Regions from separate parts of the Homo sapiens genome. Here regions 1, 2, 3, 4, 5 and 6 are each reported to be linked to region 7. The links are microRNA targets in miRTarBase. Many come from high-throughput screens and were not tested one by one. Region 7 holds a microRNA gene; each other region holds the end of a gene's coding sequence.
What was found. The annotated mature microRNA hsa-miR-450b-5p reads UUUUGCAAUAUGUUCCUGAAUA and lies in region 7 at 1,394-1,415, opposite strand. An mRNA with a match to its seed (bases 2 to 7 or 8) in the 3' UTR can be bound and repressed. Matches are read on the target gene's strand: a 7mer-m8 pairs with bases 2 to 8, a 7mer-A1 pairs with bases 2 to 7 and ends in A, and an 8mer does both.

Region 1 (3,412 bases), not on the chromosome of region 7:
TTGGCTCCATTTTTTTTTTTTTCTGTTTCATCGCAGACTAAATTTCTCTACATGGAGGAATCCTGAGGAAGTGATTTACCGGCCCAGCCTAGGTCAAATTCCCACCCTCGAATTAATCAGCTGTGGCCAGAAGTTGGGGTCACCTGGTAACAGGGCTGCTTTGCCGCTGTCAGCAGGAGGCTGGGATGGGCAGTTTATGAAGGAAGGGACAATGCTGAGCAGGCAACCCCAGAATTGTCCCCTGAGTTTCTAAGCGGAGGAATATGGCCCGATCTGACCTGCATTTTGGGATGAGTAGGCATTAAAGACGACAGGTTTTTTCCTTTTATTCATAAAAACAAATTTGCAACAATTTATTAAAAATCGATACCATGCAGTAGGGGTACGAGAAATTCCTCATTTACATTTGATTCTGGCAGTTCCAGTCTAATTTAAAGCGTTTTGTGCACTAACATCATTGGAAAATGCCTTCAGGCCGAAGCCTCTTCAGAAATGGACGGTGTGTTTGCTGCATATAAAAGAACAGAACCATTAAGTAGCTAGAGTCACTTCTGTGGGTCTTGTTATTTGCGAGGAAATTAAAAAAAAATGGGTGAACCTACAGTATCAGTAAGACAGAGAATGTACTTCGTGAGTTAACCTAGAAGACAGCGCACGCTCAGGAGTCACAAAGGGTTACAGACGCACAGGCTCACCTCCGACAGTCCAATACTTTTGTTTGTTTTCCTGCTATGCTGGAATAATATTTCTACAGGTATTTTTTTTTGTGTGTGTGTATACATTATGTACAATTAATTGTCTCTTTCCCTTTGAAAAATTAATGTGGTCCTTTAAATTAAATTTGGTTTTGGTGAAATCAAGAAAGCAAGTAAATACTGGTAATACACAGTGAGTGACAACACCGATTTTTAGTGCCTAAACAGAGAATGACTTCAACTTGACCTGTGATGTGTTAACATTTTTTTTTCCCTAAAAGCTACAGTACCTCCATAACCTCTCTTTGGGGAAGGGGAGCAGAAAGCTATGCTACGTGAAATAGGGTGCTTTGAAATGTTGGCATTGGTAAGATTCCTGTGGGCCCTTTTGTCAAAGCCTGGTGGAGAAAACAGTTTATTCCTGACTGCAGTGGTTCTGGGAAGAGATTATTGCCTGCCTGTTGAAGCTGCCAATAGGTTTCTTTAGGGAGTGAGCGAGCTGCTCAGTTGTGCAGACATCCTGGACATTGTCATTCAGGCCTTTCTTGAGCAAAGAATGAACCTGTCTAGGAATGTCAGAAAAGTCACTGGGAGCCTCCCTCCAGCCCGGATGTTCTGGGTAGAGGGCTGTGCTGGAAGCTTCTCTGGGCCACACCCCCGGCTGTAGGGAGGGCTGAAGGTCAGAGTCATACTCATACCTCACGGATCAGGGCGGCTTCACTGTTTGGTACAAAGCTTTCCTGGACAAGATCAAGTTTCAATCCTCAGAGTGACCTTGTGAGGTAGGCAGGACAGGTGTTTTAGTTCAACCCCAAGTTACAGAGGGGAAACTGAGGCTCAGAGAGACACTAGTGACCTGATCAAAGTCACGTAGGGAGTGGGCAGGGGACTGAGGACTTGAACCCAGGTCTGTCTGACTCCCAGGCCAGTGCTCTTAGGGGCTCAATTTAAAGGGAGGAATGATCTTATGAATGAGAATCAATCTGCTGACTGATCACCCCAGTGATCCCAAGGGGAGAGCTCACTGGCTTGTCTGGATGGAAGGCTGCCTTCTGGAAGCCAAGGGAAGCCCTCAGCCAGCAACTCTCTCCCCTATGTCTACGGGGATGTCTTTTAGCAGAGTGCCTCCAATTCACTTTGGTCAGAAACAAAGTTAGTGGGAAAAAAAAAAAAAAAATCCCAGCCAGCCCTTGGGCCCTGATGAGAGAGGTTAAAGTGCACAATCTTTCTTTATCGTGTTTGCTGGGAACAGACATTCCATGATTAGCTCGGGTGGTCCCCCTGGTTACTGGGAGCATCCGATAGGAACACAAGGACATGGCCAACGTGGTGGGTGCATGACAGACTGTCGGTGAATGCTGCAGAGCGTGTCTGCAGTGACGTGCCCTAAATCCCCACGGTCCCAGGAATGGGTGTTATTGTGTTAACGTGTGGCATTTACCAGAGTAACAAACATCTCATTGGGTGACACAGGTCCCATGTGGAGCATGTAAGTCAGCCTGCTCCAGTGCCGCAGCCCTCGGCCTGCCTGCTCCAGGGCTGTGCCTGTCTGCGCTCCTGCAGACTCCCTGTTCCAGGAAGGCTGGGGTCAGCTGGCCTGGCAGCTGGGGGCCTGGTGGCCCTTCCCACCTCCTCCCCCAGAGTGGAGAAGGGCTAGCCTGAGGGGTCACAGCCAGTGATGTGTGTGCAGAGGCAGTTTCTTCAGAAGCTCCTTGCCTCTTCCCAAGGCTGCTCGAGCCACTCCGTGACTTCCAGCTGGAGTTCTAGTGCCTCTCTCCTTGTCTAGTTTTTTTGTTTTTTTTTTTTTTTTTTTTTTTTTGCAAGTTTGATATCCCAGCGCCTCCTTGTTTGCAGATGTTAAGGAAGACGTCCCATTTCCGTTCCTCTTCTTTGTGAAGAAATAAGGACTTCACAAATAAGGCTCGAGGTCAGGTGCCAAGTCTCCCCCTGCCCCGTCCTGTCCACCTGAGTGCCATCCGAGTGGTCCTGAGAGGCCAGCCATGGTGCCCAGCTTCTCCGCAGCCAGAGCCGACAGTGTTTCTGCAGCAGACCCCTCTGCCCAGTGTGGTTCTGTCACGGGGGAGGCCCCGGGCCCAGGCCTCCCACCCTTACAGGCCCGAGACCATGACTCGGAAGGAGGGTGGCACATGTCTGTGGCGGGGGCTGGCGGTGGGGCTGACGCAGGGGCTGACACAGCTGGCGTCCACGCCTCCGATGGATGGGAGGTAGGCGTGGTGGAGGATGGGGAGCTGGAGGGACAGCCGACGCTGGATGCTGAAGAGAAGGAGAGGGAGGAGTGTTAGTGAAGGGTAGCTGGGCGCTTACCAGAAAGTTCCTTGGACTTGCTTTGGCTAAAAAAGCTGATGACAGGAGCATATTTTTCTCTGAATCCAAGATCTGTCCATCCAATCATCTAACCATTCAGCAATCCAGCAGGTATTTAATGAGGGCCCATATGTACCAGCTACTGCCCTGGGAATGACCAGGGAGACTTGAATAAACAAGGGAGATGAATTTTCTCGAGCTTTGGGCCAGGATTTGGTGGTTATTATAAATACCCTAGCAGAAAAGATGCTCCTTGACTTACGATGGGGTTACATTCCCATAAACCCATTGTAAGTTGAAAATATCGTAAGTTGAAAAATGCATTTAATCCACCTAACCTACCAAATATCCTAGCTGAGCCTCGCCTACCTTAAATGTGCTCAGAACACTTA
Region 2 (3,404 bases), not on the chromosome of region 7:
GAAGCTGCAGCCCTCACTTAACAGTGGGCGGCTCCTACATCTAGCCATGCGAGGTCTTGGGGAGCTGGGCGCCCAGCCCCAACAGGACCATGCACGCTGGCCCCGGGGCAGCAGCCTGTCCGAGTGCAGTGAGGGGGATGTCACCATGGCCAACACCATGGAGGAGATTCTGGAAGAGAGTGAGATCTAGGGTGGAGTTCCACCACCCTGGCTCTGCTCCCAGGGACTCTTGAGGGGGCCCAGGAAGAGGAAGCAAAGCAGGACACACGTTGCTGGGCACGGAATCATTCTCGTTCCATTCACCATGCCACTTTGATATGAAAGCTATCACAAGGTTCTTCAAGCTCTGTATGAAAGAGGCTGTGTGTCATGCTCACAGCCTCTGCCTGCTCTTCTCATCCTAATAACCCCCACCAGTGTGTTTTCCACAATGCCCACCAGACCCTAGGGCCTGGCTCTAAATTCAAGCCAATGAAGTCCCACCATGAAGAGAGGTCTCCTGTTATAGAGAAGCCAGCCAATATCTCTTCCTTTATCCCTTGGGGTGCATGCTTTCCATCTGAGGTTGGGTTTAGGGTGCGTGAAAACCTCCTAGGAAGCTTTTAAAATGCAGAATCCTAGACTTGTGGCTAAGATTCTAAGACAGTGAGTCTGGGACCATGGCCAGGAATTGGAGCTGTTTAATAAGCATCCCAGGTAATTCTGCTGCAAGCCCACCCTTGGAGAACACTGGGCAGGGTGAGAGGGAGCTAGAAGCGCCCCCATGTGGCCATGGCAGGATGCTGCAAGAGACAGTCTGCTCTCCCAGGTCAGCTGGGGTGTGCCTGCCCTCCTTGGAGAGTATGTAACTCCACCCACCAGAGTGCCACTCCTCTCTGCTCTTCCTCTCCTATCAAGTCTTGCCTCTCTCTCTCTTTGCCTCAGTTCTCTGTCCCTGCACAGCAGGAGTTCTGCTTGATCCTCCCTTTGAGGATTGGCCCCAGTGCCTGGGGACCCTCTGAATGTCGTCTTTGGTCTGTTCCTCTCCTTTCTGGCTCTATCTACCTTTCTGAGTTTGGCTTCTACCAGCCTGATTTACACTACCATTCTCTTGGGGCAAGGAATGTCCCCACCATTTTTGGTTTGCCATTGATGCATTGATTGTCACACCTGTTGTCCCAGGAAGTTGACCTATAACTCTCCATGGCCAGAGTCCCTGCTGATCAGAATTCAATTTGCCCAGTGGGAATAAATACTGAAAGCAGGAGGGCCCAGGTAAAGCAATAGGAGTTTGGCTGGATCTGGACATGCCCAGGGTGGCTCTGAGAGATCCAAGACTTTGCATCCACCAGCCTGTGGGATCTTTCCTGCCTACTGTGACCCATGGAGGCTGAGGAGGGCCCAGGCAGTTGGGGTCAGGCTCAATGACTGAAAGTATAGGGCAAGAGGCTGTAGGAAGATCAAGGGATGGACATCCTTTGGAAACAGTGTGTTAATGCACAGGAGTGTCACTTTCATGGTATGTAAAATGCATGTGTACGTGGGTGGGGTATGTTGCTATGGGACTAAATACCACCTTGTCTTCGGGGGAGTCAGTTTGATACTCCTCAAGCAGGGCTGCCATATTTAGCAAACAAAAACAAGGTACTCAATTAAATTTGAATTTCAGACAAATAGTCTTCTTGTATAAGTATATCCCATGGGCATATTTAATCTGAGATTGGAATTCAATCATGCATCTTGTCTTTTACTGGCATCTCTGTTTTCAAGGATACTTTGCCACAGGGCTGGGACTAGGGTGAAATAATCAAGGCACTCATCTCTAAAAAGCTCAAAGTAAATGATCAAAATAAATCATATTTTAATGCAATATTCTAAAAAAACAAATTAACAAACTACAGCCCATGAGCCATTTATAGAAATGAAATTTGATTGGAGCCAGGGGCAGGATAAGGGTGAGGCAGGAGAGGCCAGCTCTTGCAAGTGCAGGCTCTGGTCCTGACTTTCAAATGTTGTCTATGAGGGACTTTTAATGTGAATTTTTATTTTTAGACAATTGCATTAAAATGTTATTTATATTGACTATGGGGACTTTTGGGGCCCCCTTAAATTTTGCACTTGAAATGGGATCCCCACTTGTGTCACCCCATAGTCCAGCCCTGGTTTTAGGATGGGGATGGAGGCAAAGGCATCAGGCAAGTAATGAAGCAAAGGTTTATTTTTTGGTGTCCAGATTATCCATAGCTCAGTCATGAAAATCTATGTCTTTCTATTTTTCTCCTTTCTGCAAATGTCCCTGCCTCGGCTCATCAGCCAATTAGCTCCTAGAAAGCTGGGGTCATCTCGTATTCCCAGCAAGTACCCAGCACAGTGCCGGTTCAGAGCAGGTGCTCCACACACATTCCTGGAATGAGACAGCACAGAAATGGCTCTCGGGAGCCTCGGATGCTGCTGGGAGTAAGTGATCCAGGACCTTACCGCTAAGAGGAGAAACTTTTTTTCAAAGCATTTATAAATACTCCCTCCACCCCTCACTCCACAAATGGGGTGATCAACACTTACTGCTTGCTCTTGTTCTGCTAATGATTAAAACAAGTTTATTTAATTTCATTTGCATTTTGTTGATTCTTTTACATTTGTCTCTCACTGGAGCTGAAGGTCTCTCCCACCCATGAAGAATGCGATGCACTATTCCTGGCCAGAAGTGAGGAAAAGGGCTGTGGCGTTTAGCCAGGGACCTGGGTGCTCCAATATCTTAAATTTGGTCTTAGGGACCAGAGGAGTGGGCAGAGGGGCCGGGACCAGAAGCAGAGGTCAGAGGTCAAAAGAATGGAAGGAGAGTGTCTCCCCTTTTATAGACCACCCCATTGGTCACTCAGCTTGCCTGTTGCTTTGAAGATCTAGTCTAGTGGTTCTCAATCCTCGCATTACAATCCCTTGGGAAGCTTTTTATTTATTTTTATTTATATTTATTTATTTGAGACCCAGTCTCACTCTGTTTCCCAGGCTGGAGTGCAGTTGCATGATCTCAACTCACTGCAACCTCCACCTCCCGGGTTCAAGCAATTCTCATGCTTTAGCCTCCCGAGGAGCTGGGTCTACAGGCGTGAGCCACCAGGCCCAGCTAATTTTTTTTGTATTTTTAGTAGAGACGGGGTTTCACCATGTTGGCCAGGCTGGTCTTGAACTCCTGACCTCAGGTGATTGCCTGCCTCGGCCTCCCAGAGTGCTGGGATTACAAGTGTGAGCCACCACGCCCAGCCCCCTGGGAAGCTTTTTTAAAAGACCAGTGACAGGGTCTGACCCCAGAGGTTCTGATTGAAATGGTCTTACTAGACCTGGGCATTGGGATTTTTATAAGTTCCTGAGTGATCTTTTTTAAATTGTGGCAAAATATATATAACATAAAATTAACCATTGTAGCC
Region 3 (3,412 bases), not on the chromosome of region 7:
TTATTTGTTGCTGTATTGTTTGCCAATATTTTATTTTGCATTTTGCATCTGTTGAGAATAAAATCCTTCTAAAAATGTCTTTTAGTACTGAGAACATGTCTGCCTCAAAAGACAATTTGAAGCATACTGTCCTTCATGATACATGGATAGACATTATTTAAACATTTGAAAAAGTTCACCAGTAAGTCCATTAGGGTCAAAGTCCAACCTGTCAGAAAATTATACTGGGTTACAATATCCCCTAAATTTTTAAATGCTTTTTATTGGTATAACTTCTCATTTCCCACTTATTTTGTATTAAGAAATATATTCATTTTCTTCATTTCTAAATCAACCTTTATTTTCGACTAATTTTTCCTATTTCCATTATATTCGGCTATACCATCTTTTGCAACTTCTGATTGTTCCTTTTCTCAATTTCTTATGAATAATCTGTGATACTGAAAATCTTTTCGGTAGATCTGGAATACCTTCACCTTCATTTTATTTATCATCTTATGTATTTCTCATTTTAATTACTATTTTATAGGTCTATTTCAAGTATTTCAGTTGTTCTGTTAGATTTAAACTTTAGGATAAAGTTTAAATATGACTTTTACTATATTTTTAAAAGTCAATACAATCCATGACTTTGCTACTTTAAGTAAGTTGTCAATTACTTAAATCTGTCTAGTCTCATTTTCCTCACATATAGAGGAGCAAAAATTAGTGTATTCCGAACAAATTTTGGCCTGATAATATTTTTTGTAACACAATCTTCAGATCATGAGATGTGTTACTGAAGAACATTTTGTTAAAATTTAGCCAAATTCTGCTTCGAGATCCATGCTCTAAAATATGTTTGTTTAGTTCATCTTATCTTCACATTTCTCTGATTCAATAAGCTGCAGGACCAGTGTGTGCTTTTTACCCCCGGCAATGCTAGACTAATTTTCGTGGGCACTTTCTCTTTCTCCTGCAGCGCCTACACTCTCTAACAGTGAATGTTAGTAGAAAGATCAAAGGTTTTAGAATCACAAAAGGCTGGGTCCCCATGTTGGCTCTTCCACATACCAGATTCTGAGCAAATTACTAATAATTCTCTTATTTCTTCTTTGAAGGTGATATGGTTTGGCTGTGTTCCCACTCAAATCTCATCTTGAATTGTAGCTCCTATAATTCCCACGTGTTGTGGGAGGAACCTGGTGGGAGATAACTGAATCATGGAGTTGTTTCCCCCATACTGTTCTCATGGTAGTAAATAAGTCTCACGATATCTGATGGTTTTAAAAGGGTTTCCCTTTTCACTTAGTTCTCATTCTCTCTTGTCCACCGCCATGTAAGACGTGCCTTTCACCTTCCACCATGATTGTGAGGCCTCCCCAGCCACATGGAACTGTGAGTCCATTAAACCTTTTTCTTTACAAATTACCATCTCAGGTGTGTCTTTATCAACAGCATGAGAACACACTAATACAGAGGGTACATGCGAATTTGCCTCACAGGATTGTTGAGAAACTGTCATGAGAAAGCATAATACTAGGTACCAAACACATGATAAATACTATTTCAGAGCAAAAACTGTCACAGGGATCATCATACTCTGACTGAAGAATGGAAACTGGACTAGAGGAAAAGCAAGTTCATGTCTTCTGACAGCTCCACAGGTTTTCACCATTAGAGTACTACCAGTTTTATGACGTTGGGTGGCTCTGGGAGAAAAAAAGTTTCTATACTCTGGATAACAGCTAAGAGGCAAGAGAGATTACAGAAAATTGTTACTTCACAATTTGTTAAGTGGGACACAACCGAAAGGGCATGGTAAATCCTCCTTTGATTCATTCCTATCAGTTATGTTATAGTGATATTAATTAAAGTGGTAGAGCCAACAAGGTGGTATGTTTCATTCTCACTGAAAAACCTTGGGTAATCTATTTATAGAGGGTTTTATAAGTATCTGTAATCTCAGGTTAAAAAGGCCTCACTCTGTTTCTCCTTAGGAATTCCTAAGAATTCCTCCTTAGGAATTTCAGAACAGCCCTTCTGAAGTATCTTCTCCTGGGGCACTTCATTTTTCCTTTTGGTCTAAGTTACTTATTGGAAGCTATTTTAAGTGCCAGGGCAGGGCTCTGCAGAAATTTTCTGAAGTATTAAATAAGAATAAATCTTATCTTTCAAATTTCCTTTGCAATCAACCTCCCCAAAATGAGCTTTACAACCACTAATTGAACTCCAATTCTTTTTGTAAATTAGAATACTGTGGTGGCATCATTGCCTCATCAGTTACAAGGGTCAAGTGAGTATTATAAACTTCAGACCTTCACAGTGCATAAAGGATCATGCAAAGCTAATCTTTAAACGATTATAGACAAATGTATTTTATTATCATATTGGCATTTGTATTAGTTGCTATTCCTACCACCATGTCTATACATTTATATTATATGCAAAAGATCCACATAATTTACCATTTGTGTATGTTTCACTATTCGAACAGGCCGCAGCAACTGTAACAGCTGCAAAAGTAATTAAAATATTACTTGGGTATTACTAATTGTTCTGTAGACAAAGATAAAATCTGAAGATCATTAGCAAATACATTACCTTTAAGCTGAGTTGCTAATATGGAACCCTTACATATATACCCAATACTAAAATAAAGCTAACTCTGTTTTAAGATTCTGGGTCATATAGCCCATTCTAAACAAAATGTTCAATAATCAATAAATCACTCATTGATAGGTTAACAAAGATATTCAATGCTGAATGTCTGAGAGTTAAAGACAACATCTGCATAGCATTCATCATATATAACCACTTCTAATTACTCATATGGGAAACTGTCCTTTAAATGAGAAAATTCTGATGCCATGAAGGAGGTCCAAAACAGCATTTCGAGATTGCTCTTTTCTAATTTTGAAGGTGCTTCTCTGGGCTTTCTAGGTTTTTGCTTTCCTCAGAGGATTCTAGTTTGGCCATTACTACATTATTGGTTCCAGGAGCCTCTGGCTGCTTATCATCACCATCAAAGATAATGTCTTCTGGATTTGGAGGTGGAGGGCAGAATTCTTCAGTTGGAAAGATCTCCTGGAAAAGTGTTTCAGCTTGCTTGACAGCATGCTCATTTCCCAGGCCACAGTCAGGCCCAGAGCAGACATAAACATTGGAAGGCAAGCCATTATACGAGCTTCTGCTGATTCCCGAGGAATCTCTCATATTAAAATAAAGAGCCCACAAGAGTCTTGGCTTTGTAAGTTCTTCCTCGTTTATTTCTGTTTCAGTATACGGAGTGAATAATTTCTTCACCACTGATTCTAAGTCTTCTCTTGCTGTTTTAGAAGATGAACATGTCAAATGTACCAGATAGGTGTCCTTCATGCATGTCATGGTTGAAGAACATAATTCTGTGACCCGTACAGCACAAGCTCCTGGC
Region 4 (3,000 bases), not on the chromosome of region 7:
TAAATGCTTGCTTTCTACCGAGTTGCCCTATCTCTTCTTTAAGGACACACTTGAGAACTAGGAAGCAAATATGACTTCTGAGCAGCCAAAATCATATCACGAAGTCCTCACGTAAGCACGTTTCCATCTCACAGAAAGCTGCTGCTGCCAAGAGGCTCTCAGGAATCACTGGGAAAACCTGACAGGGCCTGGTGGTCTAGAGGTCGCCCACCTCGATGGGCTCTGAAGGACCACAGCCTTGTTGCAGATCCAGAAAGAGCCAAGAAGCTGTTTAGTTAAGCCCAGTGATAGTCTGCTTAAGAAGGCAGGAAAGTGTATTTGTAAAAGATTTCCATCTACGATAATCTATCCATAGTCCGCTGTTTAAAGAGGCTCGGCGTGAGAGGCACATATTTCTCATTTTCTAAAACCTCCTCACATGGCTTCATTGTAATTCTCTCTTTCACAAGGTCCGAAGTGTCCCTTTAGCATATGAAATGACAGCAGATTATTTTAGGGGCCAGCTGGGCATCAGCTCCTAAGAGTGCTGCAGTCCACAAAGCCCATTGCTGAGGATGCCAGATGGCAGAAGCTGGAGCCTCAGCCTGCCACTTGTTGCCTCTAATTAAGCCAGAATTCCCACCTTACCAGATAGTTCCTGCTTCTCTAGCAGAGACTTAAGGTGCAGAGCTGGTGACAGAGATGCCACTGGCCAGCCATTTTGGCTGCAGCCCCCAGCTACTGTGCACTGCTGGTGAGTGAAACAGAAGCTGGATTTTGGCTCACACTTACCCCTCACGCAGAGCAGGACCCACACAGCTGTACCTGATAGCCCTGATTCATGGGGGAGGAGGGAGCACAAAACTATGTCCTTTTATGTGCTTTTGGAAATCCTGGAATTGGTCTGAGCCTAGAGCTGGCACTAGCGTTTCCAAGGCAACCCCCCAGCTAAGTGAAGGGCCCTATTCATTTCAGATACACCATCCTCAGGACAGACATGGACCAGATACTGTGCCACCCAGGGTAACAGGTCAAAGGACTTTGACTTATTGGTGTTCTTCAGATATTAGAAACTGCCATCATCAGGCCCTCTTTGCCATGAAACTGAACTCAAAGATCTGTCACCTCACCCTGAAAGTGTGGGGGACATGCAATTCCTTGTTGAAAGGACCATCAGCCTATAAGCAACATGCTATCTATCTCCCCTGGCCATGACACCTTCCAAGCCCCTTGGGATGAGCTCTGTAAGAGCCCTGAGACTTGAAGAAAAATGCAATCCAGGCCTAACTCCGCAGCATTTCAAGCAGTTCTGCTATTCATTTTAAAACAATGGTTCAATTTGGATAGATGAAATTTAAAATATATCCTCTACTTCAAATCAGTTTTAAAGATGCTTGAAAAATAACAAGAGGAATAATTATATTTTCCTATCAGCTATTTTCAAACTTTTAGCAAAAAAAAGTAACTCTTTTAGCGTGAAGAGTTCTAAAGGCTGATACATTCAAATTCTAGAGAATCAAAACTGATGATTTGTCACACAAGAAATAATACAACTTTCACATTGAAACATGAGGCACATCAAGCTTATGTTTCTACAAGAATGCAGCTGAGCAGATGTTACTTTAAACTTACTTACTTACCTTTAAAAAGTACATGTACTGATTTAGCTTTGGAGAATGCTTTCCCATTGTGTGCTTGCCTCGCGCCTCAGGTTAGAGCTGCCTCAGTGGCGGGCCGTGCCTCTTATCTGGTGCTATATAATCCAAGAGGCTCCTGCCACTCTCTCCAGCTGTCAGTAGCCAGCAACTGTGTTGTGTTGTTTTCAAATGAGGGTTAAAAAGTGTCATGATTTGCAGAATTTAAGTAAAATTCTTATTTTTCTGTCTGTCTGTCTTCCCCTCAGAATGTTATTCCCTGAAGCGCAGCGCTTGGAAAGCACGGGCAGGCTGTTAGAGTTGGCAGACATAGACCCTACTCTTCGGCCCCGCCAGCTCTCCATCTCACACTTTAAGAGCCTCTGTGATGTATACAGAAAAATGTGTGATGAAGACCCACAACTCTTTGCATATAATTTCAGAGAAGAACTCAAGCGAAGAAAAAGCAAAAATGAAGAAAAAGAAGAGGATGACGCAGAGAATTACAGACTCTAGCTGCTGCCTGGGGGCGAGCAGCCTACCAGATGTCGATTTGCACTACGTGGAGCTTCTTATATAGGTACTCTTTTGTCTTTACAGAATGACGATACAAATGCCAATGACCAGATGTGACTTATTTTCCTTTTACTATACAGCTTGGCAGAGAAAATAAATATCATCAAATAAGATACAGTACAAGCTTTCTTTTAATATATACTGTATAGATAGTTATGACATGTTTAGTATAAACAGCATCTATTACAATCTATCTTACAAAAATGAAGTATCTGCACATTTTGCCCCTAAACCACATTAAAATAACTTAAATATGCTTTAAATAAAGCAAAAACTAACAAACAGCTGAAAGAAAATGCCCAGAGGATTTTAAAAAATGGCCCTTTGAAAACTATTAATCACGACTTCCCCAGCCTTACTTTTTCCACATAACTTAATTATTAGAATGTAATTTTAAGGATCCTAAATCATTTGATACCTGCTCAAAGTGGATATAAACTAAGTAATTTACAGATTCTGACCAGTTTCATCTAGGTTTCTGATCCACAATAAATTAAAATAACTTAAATCTTTACAACCATTTTGTGGGAAAATGTATACTGCACAAAACCCAGGAATGAACAGTTTTTTTTTTTTTTTTTTTTTGCAATTTCCACTTTACCACCAGTTTAAAAGTAAAATGAGGAATTTAACCCATATCTGGATTGAATCATACTATGATTTTCCGTGGCTCTCTGTTTCATAAAAACACTCCTCACTGACAACAGATGTTAAACTCTGGACACTGAATTCTCGCTCTAGAACAGAATTTAGGTCGATGGTGGCATTTTCAGACTGACTGTCAAGGGACTGGTGACGGATCTGCGCCTTG
Region 5 (3,000 bases), not on the chromosome of region 7:
GGAGATTTTTTTTTTTTTTTGGTTGCCTTTTGCAGCTGGAAACAACGTGGAGGTAGATGAGTCTTTGTTCCAAGAAATGGATGACTTGGAGCTGGAGGATGATGAAGATGATCCAGACTATAATCCTGCTGACCCAGAGAGTGACTCAGCTGACTAATGGACTGTCCCCATCTGCAGAGAGGCTTGACTGCCACAGCATCTGTGGCTATGCTCAGAGGGTTATGATTTTCCTTTCTTTTTTTCTAAGAAAAAATTATTTTCAGGAGAATATTCTTCTGATAGCTTTCATCATTGAACTTAATAAACTGACCTTAAAATTTCAAATATAAAATGTTCAAGGCTTCTTACTGTTGAGCACAAGGTTACGTATTTAAAATCACCTAGTATTTGAGAGAGATCCTGCCTATAGCACCAAGACTCGAAGGTAGGCTGCTGCTGTGCACATGAGTTTATACACAGGAAATTGGAATAACTTGGAATTTCTATGCTGGAGACTTTGGCTACTTCTGGATTTCAAGCATTGTATGAAGTGTGAGAAAACTGAGGTGACTAGCACATTAAACCATCCAGATTCTAGCCTCCAGGCACACTAAATTTAAGTCTTGATAAAACCAGGAGGCCATATTATGATCATAAGTAAGATGAAGTTTAGCCTTCCTTTTAGTCCATTTTGTATTGCCGTAAAGGAATATCTGAGGCTGGGTAATTTATAAAAGGTTTGCCGGGTGCGGTGGCTCACGCCTGTAATCCCAGCACTTTGGGAGGCTGAGGCAGGTGGATCACGAGGTCAGGAGATTGAGACCATCCTGGCTAACACGGTGAAACCCCGTCTCTATTAAAAATACAAAAAATTAGCCAGGTGTGGTGGCGAGCACCTGTAGTCCCAACTACTCGGGAGGCTGAGGCAGGACAATGGCGTGAACCCGGGAGGTGGAGCTTGCAGTGAGCCGAGATCACGCCACTGCACTCCAGCCTGGGCAACAGAGCAAGACTCCGTCTCAAAAAAAAAAAAAAGGTTTATTTGGCTCATAATTCTGGATGACCAGAAAGTTGAAGATTGGGTATCTGCATCTGGTGAGAGCCTCACGCTGCTTCCACTCATGGTAGAAGGGGAAGAGGCACTATGTGTGTAGAGATCACATGGCCAGAGAGTGAGGGTGGAAGTGCCAGGCTTTTTTTTTTTTTTTAAACTAGCTTTGGTGGGAACTCCCTCACCCCTGCTCCCCACAGGAAGGCATTAATCTATTTATGAGGGATCTACCTGCTATAACCCAAACACCCCACCAGCCCCCATCTCCCAACACCACCACACTGGGGATTAAATTTCAATGTGGGATTTGGAGAGGACAAATATCCAAACCATAGCAGTCTTAAAGTATTTAAATTAGAATTTAAATTAAAATTTAAATTACAGTATTTAAATTAGAATCATTTGTGGAGTTTCTAAAAGGTATGCATTCCTAGGCCCCTCTCAAGTTAGATTTATGAACACTGATCCCCAGTCTGAATTTTAAAACAGCAAAATCTCATACTGGTTCTACAGATTATTCTGATGCACAATCTGGGTTAAGAACCACTGTCCTGTAGTCGTGAAGTCTATATATTTTGGTATTTTCTTTACCTCTTCTCTAATTAACCAGTCTGAAGGAGTTTGAATTTTGGGGATCGTACATTGTCTGCAAGAGAAACACATTAACATCCGTGCACATAGAGTCCTTTGTAATAATTTGGGATGATTGACTTGGTGGCTCCAGGTAGGAGAGCCAGTCTTCATGCAAGTTATTCAGTCACTACAGTTTTGGAGGACTGACTCTTAACCCCAATAGGAAATCAGTTGTGCTATTTTAAATTCATAAAGCTATTATAAAGAGCTGCCTCCAGTAAAAAATACATATGCCACATACCCACAAACAGCAATATTAAGCCTTCATTTATTGTTGGAGTTAGACCTTATAATCAAAAAGCAAATTATTTAAGATAAAATTACCATTGAGGAGTTTAATACTTTTCAAGGAATCTTCACGTCAGCCTTGATCCCAGACCAATAGAATGGAATAACAACAGGAATGTTCAGCATTTCTTTGCAGAGAGAAATCCAAAAGTTTGTCCTATGTGAGATTTTGCTTTTCCCATCTTTTTGAAGCTGATCAGCAGATACATAAGAACCTGGAAGAAGCTGCTCAATTAAGGTTAAAAAAAATAAAAAGCAATTGTTAGCAATGTGGTGCTGAAATCAAGACTTAACTTTGAAGTGTCAAGAATGATAACCTCCCATCCACTTCATGTGATTTTTAAGAATAAATTTTATATATTTCTCCAGGTATTAAAGTGGATGTCCACCTTTGCCATTTCAGAACCTAAAGGCAGAATCTAATGGTAAAATGAAGACAACCTAGTTGTCTTCTAATAACCTAGTTAGTTCTAATAACATTCTCAAATATTTTCATCTAGAGTAAATATTTACTGTTGGCTTTGTATTCTGGGAATTAGCCCAAGACTATGCTGCTCAAATGGGTGCAAATATACTCTCAGGTTGCAATAGCATGACGAGTGGTATTTGAAGCAATAATTGTTCCATCTTGGATTATCGGTTTTGCTCTTTGATTTGGTAAAGTTTTTGTTTTTCTACTCGTGCCAGTTGTATTAAAATGTCACTAGGTTAAAAACAAACACAGATATGTTTATTCATTACTGTATCCCTGTAATAATGCCTGGCATGCAGTAGGTCCCTAATATTTGTTGAATGAATGAATTATAGAATAGAGTGCAAAATTAATTCTAATGTATTTTAAAGTAAAGCATGAGAGTTCAAAGAAATGTTGTATTTGCCATCTACAACTTGGAATAATGTTCCTTGATCCTGCTTTACTTCATGCACTTTTGCCAGCAGAGGTGGATGCCTTAGGGAAAAAGTTGGATAAATGCTGATCTAAGGCAACACGTCTAAATGGTTATGTGAACATTTCCCAGTTGGGGTAAAACTAAGAGGAGTGATAATAA
Region 6 (3,412 bases), not on the chromosome of region 7:
TCAGAAAATGCTTAACTTTTTCTGTGTTCATGATTATAAATCTAATTTTGTTTTATGGTTTTAGGTCTCGTCAGCCTATCTCGGCCCCTCTCTTTTCATGTCCTGACAAAAACAAGGTTAATTTCATCCCAACCGGATCAGCTTTCTGTCCTGTAAAACTTCTAGGCCCCCTCTTACCTGCTTCTGACCTTATGCTCAAGAACTCCCCTAACTCTGGCCAGAGCTCAGCTTTGGCAACTCTGACCGTTGAGCAGCTCTCATCCCGGGTTTCCTTTACGTCTCTTTCTGATGACACCAGCACAGCGGGCTCCATGGAGGCCTCTGTCCAGCAGCCATCCCAGCAGCAGCAGCTCCTGCAGGAACTGCAGGGTGAGGACCACATCTCTGCTCAGAACTATGTGATCATCTAAAAAAGGGGGAGCTGGCCTCCACCCTATGTTCCATGGATTCGGAACAAGATTTCAGACATCTGCATGAGTGACAAACTTTCTGAACACCACCACCACCAATAATACTTATCAGCATCATAAAGTATCTCTTAAACACTGATCTTGGCAGGGACGGAACTCCTATTCAGCAGTTTTTGTGGAAAGCAGTAATGCTTGCAAAACGTGTGTGTCATTCAGCATTTTAAGTGGAGACTATGCATTTCATAGTATATTTGACAGATTAGTACTGTGTCCTGTGTTTTGTTCCAGATTCTTCAGTATAAATAAGCTCTATATCAAAAAGTTGCCTGTCTAAATAGAAAATGTCTTGCTGTGTTTTGTCCTATGGAAAATACTGTAATTCAGGATTATGTTTACAATTGATCCAGGTGTTTGTTTCTAACTTCTGTAATACATACAATGCAAAAAAAAAAAAAAAAAAATGGCCACAACAGTTGCACAGTGCCCACCCTATGGCCTAGCTTCAGGTACTTCAGTTGAAGTCTAAACTCAGGTAACTTGGAATGTATATCATATTGGGATATTAAATATTTCACAGCTAAAAAGCTAAAGAGGGAACATCACTCTTTTGCCTTTCCTTATTTTATGCATTTCCCTTTCCTCATTACATTCCACATTCTTAGAATAAGAAGTGCATTCAATCCTAGGAGAATGATAATCCTGGACATGGGTGAACATGAGGAGAACCAGCAAAATCTGTGGTGTTTGACATCACTTTGTCATGTGGTTACAAGTAAAACAACTGTTGCATTCACTGTTTCAACATGTGTACATGTGGCTTTTTTAAAAGTTCAGGTGTTGCTCAGTAAAGGACTGTGACAATGTTGCAAATAAAGTGTTCAGTACTGGACTGTACATAAACATTCCACATTGTGTGTGATGAAATTTAAAGACAAGAATGTCTAGAGTTAATTTCAAAATAAGTGAAGTGTTTGACGGAATGGTTGAGATTTTTTTGTTTATGTTAGCCATCAGGGTCATAACTGTTACCATTTTATCTAAAGACATATTTATATTTAGTTTCTCCCTTGGAAATTCTTTATTTTGCAGGTGAAAAAGTGACATACTTTTTGTTATTGTCTTCCTCAAGCAGTTTAGGTGCATGATCTTCATTTACATAGAATACTTGGGTCTCAGAATTGATGCAACATAAGCAGGTTTTTTTGGTGACTTACAAGAGCAATAGTTTGAAGCTATCTCATTTAAGCCTCTCATAATGCATAATCATGAGTAGTTTTGAAATTTGCAACCTGTGAGGTAGAGCATAAACTCAAGAAAATAGCCTTGAACTTGCAGACTTTTGACACAAGTTCTCCACAAAGTGTGAAGAGAGCCCCAGGCATTCCTGATTGGTCAATGGGAGAGCCTAACTTTCATTGTTTTCTTCAGTACAAAGAGTATCCAAAAGCTAAGTTTTTGTATTCCACTACTTTCAGTTCAATAAAACCTAGAGTTGTTTCATCTGCGCCTAAAGTGTATGGCACAATTTTCTTAAGAATTAGGGGAACCAGGTGCCTACAGTTAAAGGAACGTTTCAGTTCCTTTCATTCATTCCTGGGTTTTTCTTTTATTTTCTAAGAAGGTTGAAGAAGGATGAGTGATAGAGAAGAAAGCAACACCATTGATTTTTTTTTTTAAGAAATGATATATATATGTATATGTTTGTGTGTGTGTGTGTGTGTGTGTGTGTGTGTATTCTGTGCATTATTTTGTCATGATCTCAATTCTCTTCTTTCCACCAAAGTTTGTCGTAATATTTTCTCCTGAAGGTGCATTCTGGCTCCTTTAAATTAGTCAGTGTTATATTGTAGGAGACTGTCATGGAAAAAAGGACTCAGTTTACTTTCGTCATTTTCACAGGGGAACCTTTTAAAACAATCTTTTCAGCAGCAGATACCTTTAACCCTAATAATCTCAGGCCTTGATGAAAATACTATATTTTGTAGATTATGGTTAAAGGGGGAAAATTACTAGTTCCGTAAGATAAATATGAGCTCCATTTGACTTCTGATGTCTGGTTTAGCATTACATAATATGTTGATCTTACACTCTGCTTTTGTCCAAATAAAATGCAATAGTATCAATATCAATTTCAGAAAAATGGACTGAATATGCTTTTTTGGTGATGAAATCTCATGTACGATATTTATAGTGATGTGCTTTTATTTTCTCATGAGATACTAAATATTAATTGTGTTGTACATTTGTTCTTAGCATATATTAAAGTTTTGAACCAAATGTGTTAAAGCTTACGCTTTGCCATGTAAATTTCCCAGAAGTTGTTGAGCTCAAATGTATCCTACATCCAGCTGTAGAAATTTGTCAGAAATTGTTTAAATTTTGTATATAATTGTACTGTTTAATTCTAGCCATTGCGCTGAACAGTATTTGAGTTACCATATAATATGGCTTTACACAAGGAAATGTGTGGCTTTTGTTTTGTATTTTTTCAGTATAGAAGTTCCTGTGTCTTATTTAAATAAAGTTATTAGTAAAACTGAAATAGTTCACACATGTTTTTGGAAAGACTGGGGTTGTTGGCTCGTTACCCGACAGAGAGAAATTCAGCTCAGGTTAATGGTAGTTTTCTGTACTCATTGAGTTCCTGGCCTGCATGTCTGGAGGTGTGGGGTGTCTAACTGGATCAGATTTCTACAACCTGGCTTCCTCTTGGCATTTAACTTACACACTCTCCATCACAAGGTGAGAAGCTAGAGGTCTTAAGTTCCAAGTCTTGGTACTGTTCCCAGGTATGATCACATTAAATAGAGAAAACATTGTTCTCACATCACTTTATACCTCAGAATTTATAGAAATGAGTTTAAATTCAATGAAATCATTTCAGAGGAAGTTGCATATTTCTTGCAAGCAAAGCTGCAGCAATAAAATTTAATTTTTTACTTTTTTATTTGTTTAGATTCAGAATAAGGTGGAGAAAAGCTTTACAAAACAAAGGAGGGTTG
Region 7 (3,412 bases):
AATGGTCTCCTGTATCTTTGTAAATGGATATGTGTATATATATTTGCCTCACAACTCAGCTTCTCCTTTAAGGAATATGATGGATCTATTTTGAAAGTAATGTCGGCCGGGCACGGTGGCTCACGCCTGTAATCCCAGCACTTTGGGAGGCCAAGGTGGGCAGATCACGAGATCAGGAGATCGAGACCATCCTGGCTAACACAGTGAAACCCGTCTCTACTAAAAATACAAAAAAATTAGCCAGGCAAGGTGGCGGGCACCTGTAATCCCAGCTACTTGGGAGGCTGAGGCAGGAGAATCGCTTGAACCTGGGAGGCAGAGCTTGCAGTGAGCTGAGATCGCACCATTGCACTCCAGCCAGGGTGACAGAGCCAGCCAGACTCCGTCTCAAAAAAAAAAAAAAAAAAAAGAAAGTAATGTCTAGTCATATGGACTTGCTAGAGTGCCAAATATGTCCTTGGTGGGGGAACAGTTTCCCAAAATGCTACTAAAAAGATAGGAAGGAACTTAGATCCTCCTGTAATGTGTCTCTGTCCAAATCAGTGCCACTGAGGAACGCTAAAACCTTGGTAGGTGCCCTTCAGACCATGGGCCAGGTACGTGACCAAATGGTTCCATCTCTTACCAGAACAAGGATCGCCTAAATTGAGGTGTCACATGTGTTCTGCAACACCAGAGTTACTATGGAGCTCAGCTGAATTTGCGGGAAAATGCAGGGGGGGCTTTACCCGCATCTGCAAGAAGTTGGCTGAGTGGAAATAACCTAAATAAGGTGTTTTCCTGACTTGGGCATATCTCAAACTGGCCAATGCGTCTTGAGGCCCTGGGCGAGCATCCAAGTACCACCTTCCTGAATTGCTACTAGAGGAAAAGGAGCCTGTTTCAGCTTTCTATACTTCTTTAAATGTTACTTTGATTAGACATAGATAGCAGTTTGTTTACTAATATTACTATTATAACTCTGTCGTGGTTATATTTTTTAGTTATACTTTCTCTTTTCTTTGCCAAGAGCAAATGAAAACACATTTGCACTGCAGATCCAACTGAAGTTGTACAAAGGTTTCCCAGATATGTTTGAAAAAGTATTCTAGGCCCACTGCTGGCCAAATAGGAAGTCTTCCCCCACCCTTATGTCAGGGGTTCATGCTTTAAAAAAAATACAAACTCTTTTTAAAAATAAAATGTTTTATTATTGCTATAAAAGCAATGCATTTTATTGTTTATGCAAATATTACTTGGAAAATACATAAAAGTATAAAGAGAAAAACAAACATTACCTATAATTTTATACTATAATACTGTTACAAGTTTTGGTATATTTCTTCCTAGACTTTTCTCCATATGTTGATACAAAACTATGGATGCAAAATGATCCCAATACACTTATATTACATATTCAGGAACATATTGCAAAAATAATTCTGCATCTTACATTTATCACAGAAGTAAACCACAGATAGCCGCTGTTAGATTTTTTGCTTATTCCCTCCATCTTTTCATCTGTATATTGATACAAAACTATACATGCAAAATGTTCCCAATATATTTATAGTGCATATTAGGAACACATCGCAAAAACAGTTTAGTATCGTTTTTGATTGCCTATAGTGACACAAGTCAGCGATAACCACCTCTAGACTTTTGGTATACTTCCTGATAGCCTCTTTTCCCCATATTATTGATACAAAACTATGAATGCAAAATGTCCCCAATACATTTATATTACATATTAGGAACACATCGCAAAAATAGTTTAGCATCTTTCTTTGGTCACCTTTATACCACAACTCAGAGATAATCACAATAAAGTTTTTATATGTTTCCTCCTAGCCTTTTATCTGTATGTTGATACAAAACTATTCATACAGAATGCTCCCTATATACCTATATTGCAGAGATGGGAAAATATTTTGCACCTTTTTTCAATCGCTAAATGTTTTATCAGGAGCACATTCTCATGACATGAAAATTACTTTCAGAAACATTATTTTACATGAAAGCATCCTATTCTATTGTACTAGCTAGCTACGCTGTATTTTATTTGTCTAATCCTTTGTTGTTGGTCATTCAGGATGTTCCTAACTTCCATCCTTAAAATATTGAAATGAGCATCTTTATGCATTTTTTTTAACTGGGGCTTTCTGTTCATGTAGTTTTTATGGTTTTTCTTGACCACTTGTGTGGACTCAACATACTAAAAATGACCCTGTGTCTGTAATGCTTATAGCAAAGTGTTTTCCAGTTGTTTGCTTGAGCATAAATTCTTTATTTTAGCATTCTAGCACAAGTATAAAATCATATACCTTATGTAAGTTTCAATTCATTCAACAAACATTTAAAGCAATAAAGACACAAATAAAGGCATTCCCATTACACTCCTATGAAAACACAACTCATCCTCCCACCCCATCCCATAGCAACCCCTTTCTTCTTTGCTTAGGGCCCACTTTCCTCCTGATCTTTTCATTGATTCGTCTTGTAATACTTACCACATGTTTTGCTATGAAGATGAGTGGCTCCCAGACCTTTCAGTTATCAATCTGTCACAAGTGCACACTGGTATCTCGTGACATGATGATCCCCGAGATGTCTGAGATCTGTGCATCCTTGACCGATCCCAAATTTCTGTATCACCCATGACCCCTAAAGACTTTTTAGAGAATTATATTTTGACAACATAACAAGAAAACGTGGCATCTCACACACACACACACACACACACACACACACACACACACACACACACAAAACCATGAAAAAGTAGAGAAAGAAGAAACTTCAGCTCTAATCCCACCACCCTTAAGTAACAAGTATGTCTGTTTTGCAGGTTTCCTCCAGGTTCTGCTCCTATTTTTCAATCATGGTGTCCATGTGATTTTGTGGCCCTGATTTTTTTTAAGTTGATATCATAAGCATTTTCCAGGTTTCTGTATATTCTCTATCATTATTATTTGCAATGGCTGAAAAAGGTTCCATTGAGTGAGTGACTAGATTAAGTCAACCCCTATAGCTTGACACTTCATTTGTTTCCTTAAGATAATTTGATTGAATCTACAGAAAATAACAAACATGGGACAGAGGTTTAAAATGAATTTAAATCATGCTTTTTTGGTTTGTGCAGATTGACTTGTACACGGCTGGGTAACTTATAGTCACTATTTAGTAATCCTGGGGCCAATCTTGGGCCTCACCCAGGAAGTGTCCAATGTATAGGCCAAAGCTCATCATAAGACTAGCCAGTTTCACCGGGAATTTTTGTAACCAAACACATTCACCTCCATTTCCTGCTCTGGTCACTACTGCATAGTCGGTTCTGATGAACAGGTAATGACATAAGGAACACAGTATGAGGCCTGGAGGAAGAGCCCCCAGAGAGTAGCCTCAGACAAATCCTTAACCTCCAGAGGCCCCA

Region 1: miRTarBase lists GABBR2 as a target of hsa-miR-450b-5p. Seed matches in the 3' UTR shown: 8mer at 2,511-2,518 and 7mer-m8 at 343-349.
Region 2: the mRNA of GLP2R is a reported target of hsa-miR-450b-5p. The part of its 3' UTR that is shown has no 7-base or 8-base seed match.
Region 3: the mRNA of CHML is a reported target of hsa-miR-450b-5p. Seed matches in the 3' UTR shown: 7mer-m8 at 2,164-2,170, 8mer at 387-394, 7mer-A1 at 41-47 and 7mer-A1 at 34-40.
Region 4: the mRNA of TIAM2 is a reported target of hsa-miR-450b-5p. Seed matches in the 3' UTR shown: 8mer at 2,771-2,778.
Region 5: miRTarBase lists RWDD1 as a target of hsa-miR-450b-5p. Seed matches in the 3' UTR shown: 7mer-A1 at 2,766-2,772.
Region 6: the mRNA of GLCCI1 is a reported target of hsa-miR-450b-5p. Seed matches in the 3' UTR shown: 8mer at 603-610, 7mer-A1 at 850-856 and 7mer-m8 at 1,274-1,280.

Annotation. Positions count from the first base shown.
Region 1 is chr9:98,287,781-98,291,192 of GRCh38, forward strand. It overlaps GABBR2 (gamma-aminobutyric acid type B receptor subunit 2), which reads right to left. Exons shown (of 19, transcript NM_005458.8): 19 at 329-2,969. The coding sequence ends at 2,804. Among named protein-coding and RNA genes, the nearest start is that of TBC1D2, 34 kb to the left of the region's middle.
Region 2 is chr17:9,889,516-9,892,919 of GRCh38, forward strand. GLP2R (glucagon like peptide 2 receptor) reads left to right here. Exons shown (of 13, transcript NM_004246.3): 13 at 1-2,584. The coding sequence ends at 190. Among named protein-coding and RNA genes, the nearest start is that of RCVRN, 14 kb to the right of the region's middle.
Region 3 is chr1:241,630,907-241,634,318 of GRCh38, forward strand. CHML (CHM like Rab escort protein) reads right to left here. Exons shown (of 2, transcript NM_001381853.1): 2 at 1-3,412. The coding sequence ends at 2,890. The region is part of intron 1 of OPN3 (opsin 3); the gene reads right to left. Among named protein-coding and RNA genes, the nearest start is that of CHML, 7.8 kb to the right of the region's middle.
Region 4 is chr6:155,256,965-155,259,964 of GRCh38, reverse strand. TIAM2 (TIAM Rac1 associated GEF 2) reads right to left here. Exons shown (of 27, transcript NM_012454.4): 27 at 2,242-3,000. The coding sequence ends at 2,844. TFB1M (transcription factor B1, mitochondrial) reads left to right here. Exons shown (of 7, transcript NM_016020.4): 7 at 1,883-3,000. The coding sequence ends at 2,129. Among named protein-coding and RNA genes, the nearest start is that of CLDN20, 5.5 kb to the left of the region's middle.
Region 5 is chr6:116,592,945-116,595,944 of GRCh38, forward strand. It overlaps RWDD1 (RWD domain containing 1), which reads left to right. Exons shown (of 7, transcript NM_015952.4): 7 at 36-3,000. The coding sequence ends at 157. Among named protein-coding and RNA genes, the nearest start is that of RSPH4A, 22 kb to the right of the region's middle.
Region 6 is chr7:8,086,129-8,089,540 of GRCh38, forward strand. It overlaps GLCCI1 (glucocorticoid induced 1), which reads left to right. Exons shown (of 8, transcript NM_138426.4): 8 at 65-2,952. The coding sequence ends at 410. Among named protein-coding and RNA genes, the nearest start is that of GLCCI1, 120 kb to the left of the region's middle.
Region 7 is chrX:134,538,838-134,542,249 of GRCh38, forward strand. MIR450B (microRNA 450b) reads right to left here and starts at 1,425; the gene lies at 1,348-1,425. It overlaps MIR450A1 (microRNA 450a-1), which reads right to left and starts at 1,594; the gene lies at 1,504-1,594. MIR450A2 (microRNA 450a-2) reads right to left here and starts at 1,770; the gene lies at 1,671-1,770. MIR542 (microRNA 542) reads right to left here and starts at 2,600; the gene lies at 2,504-2,600.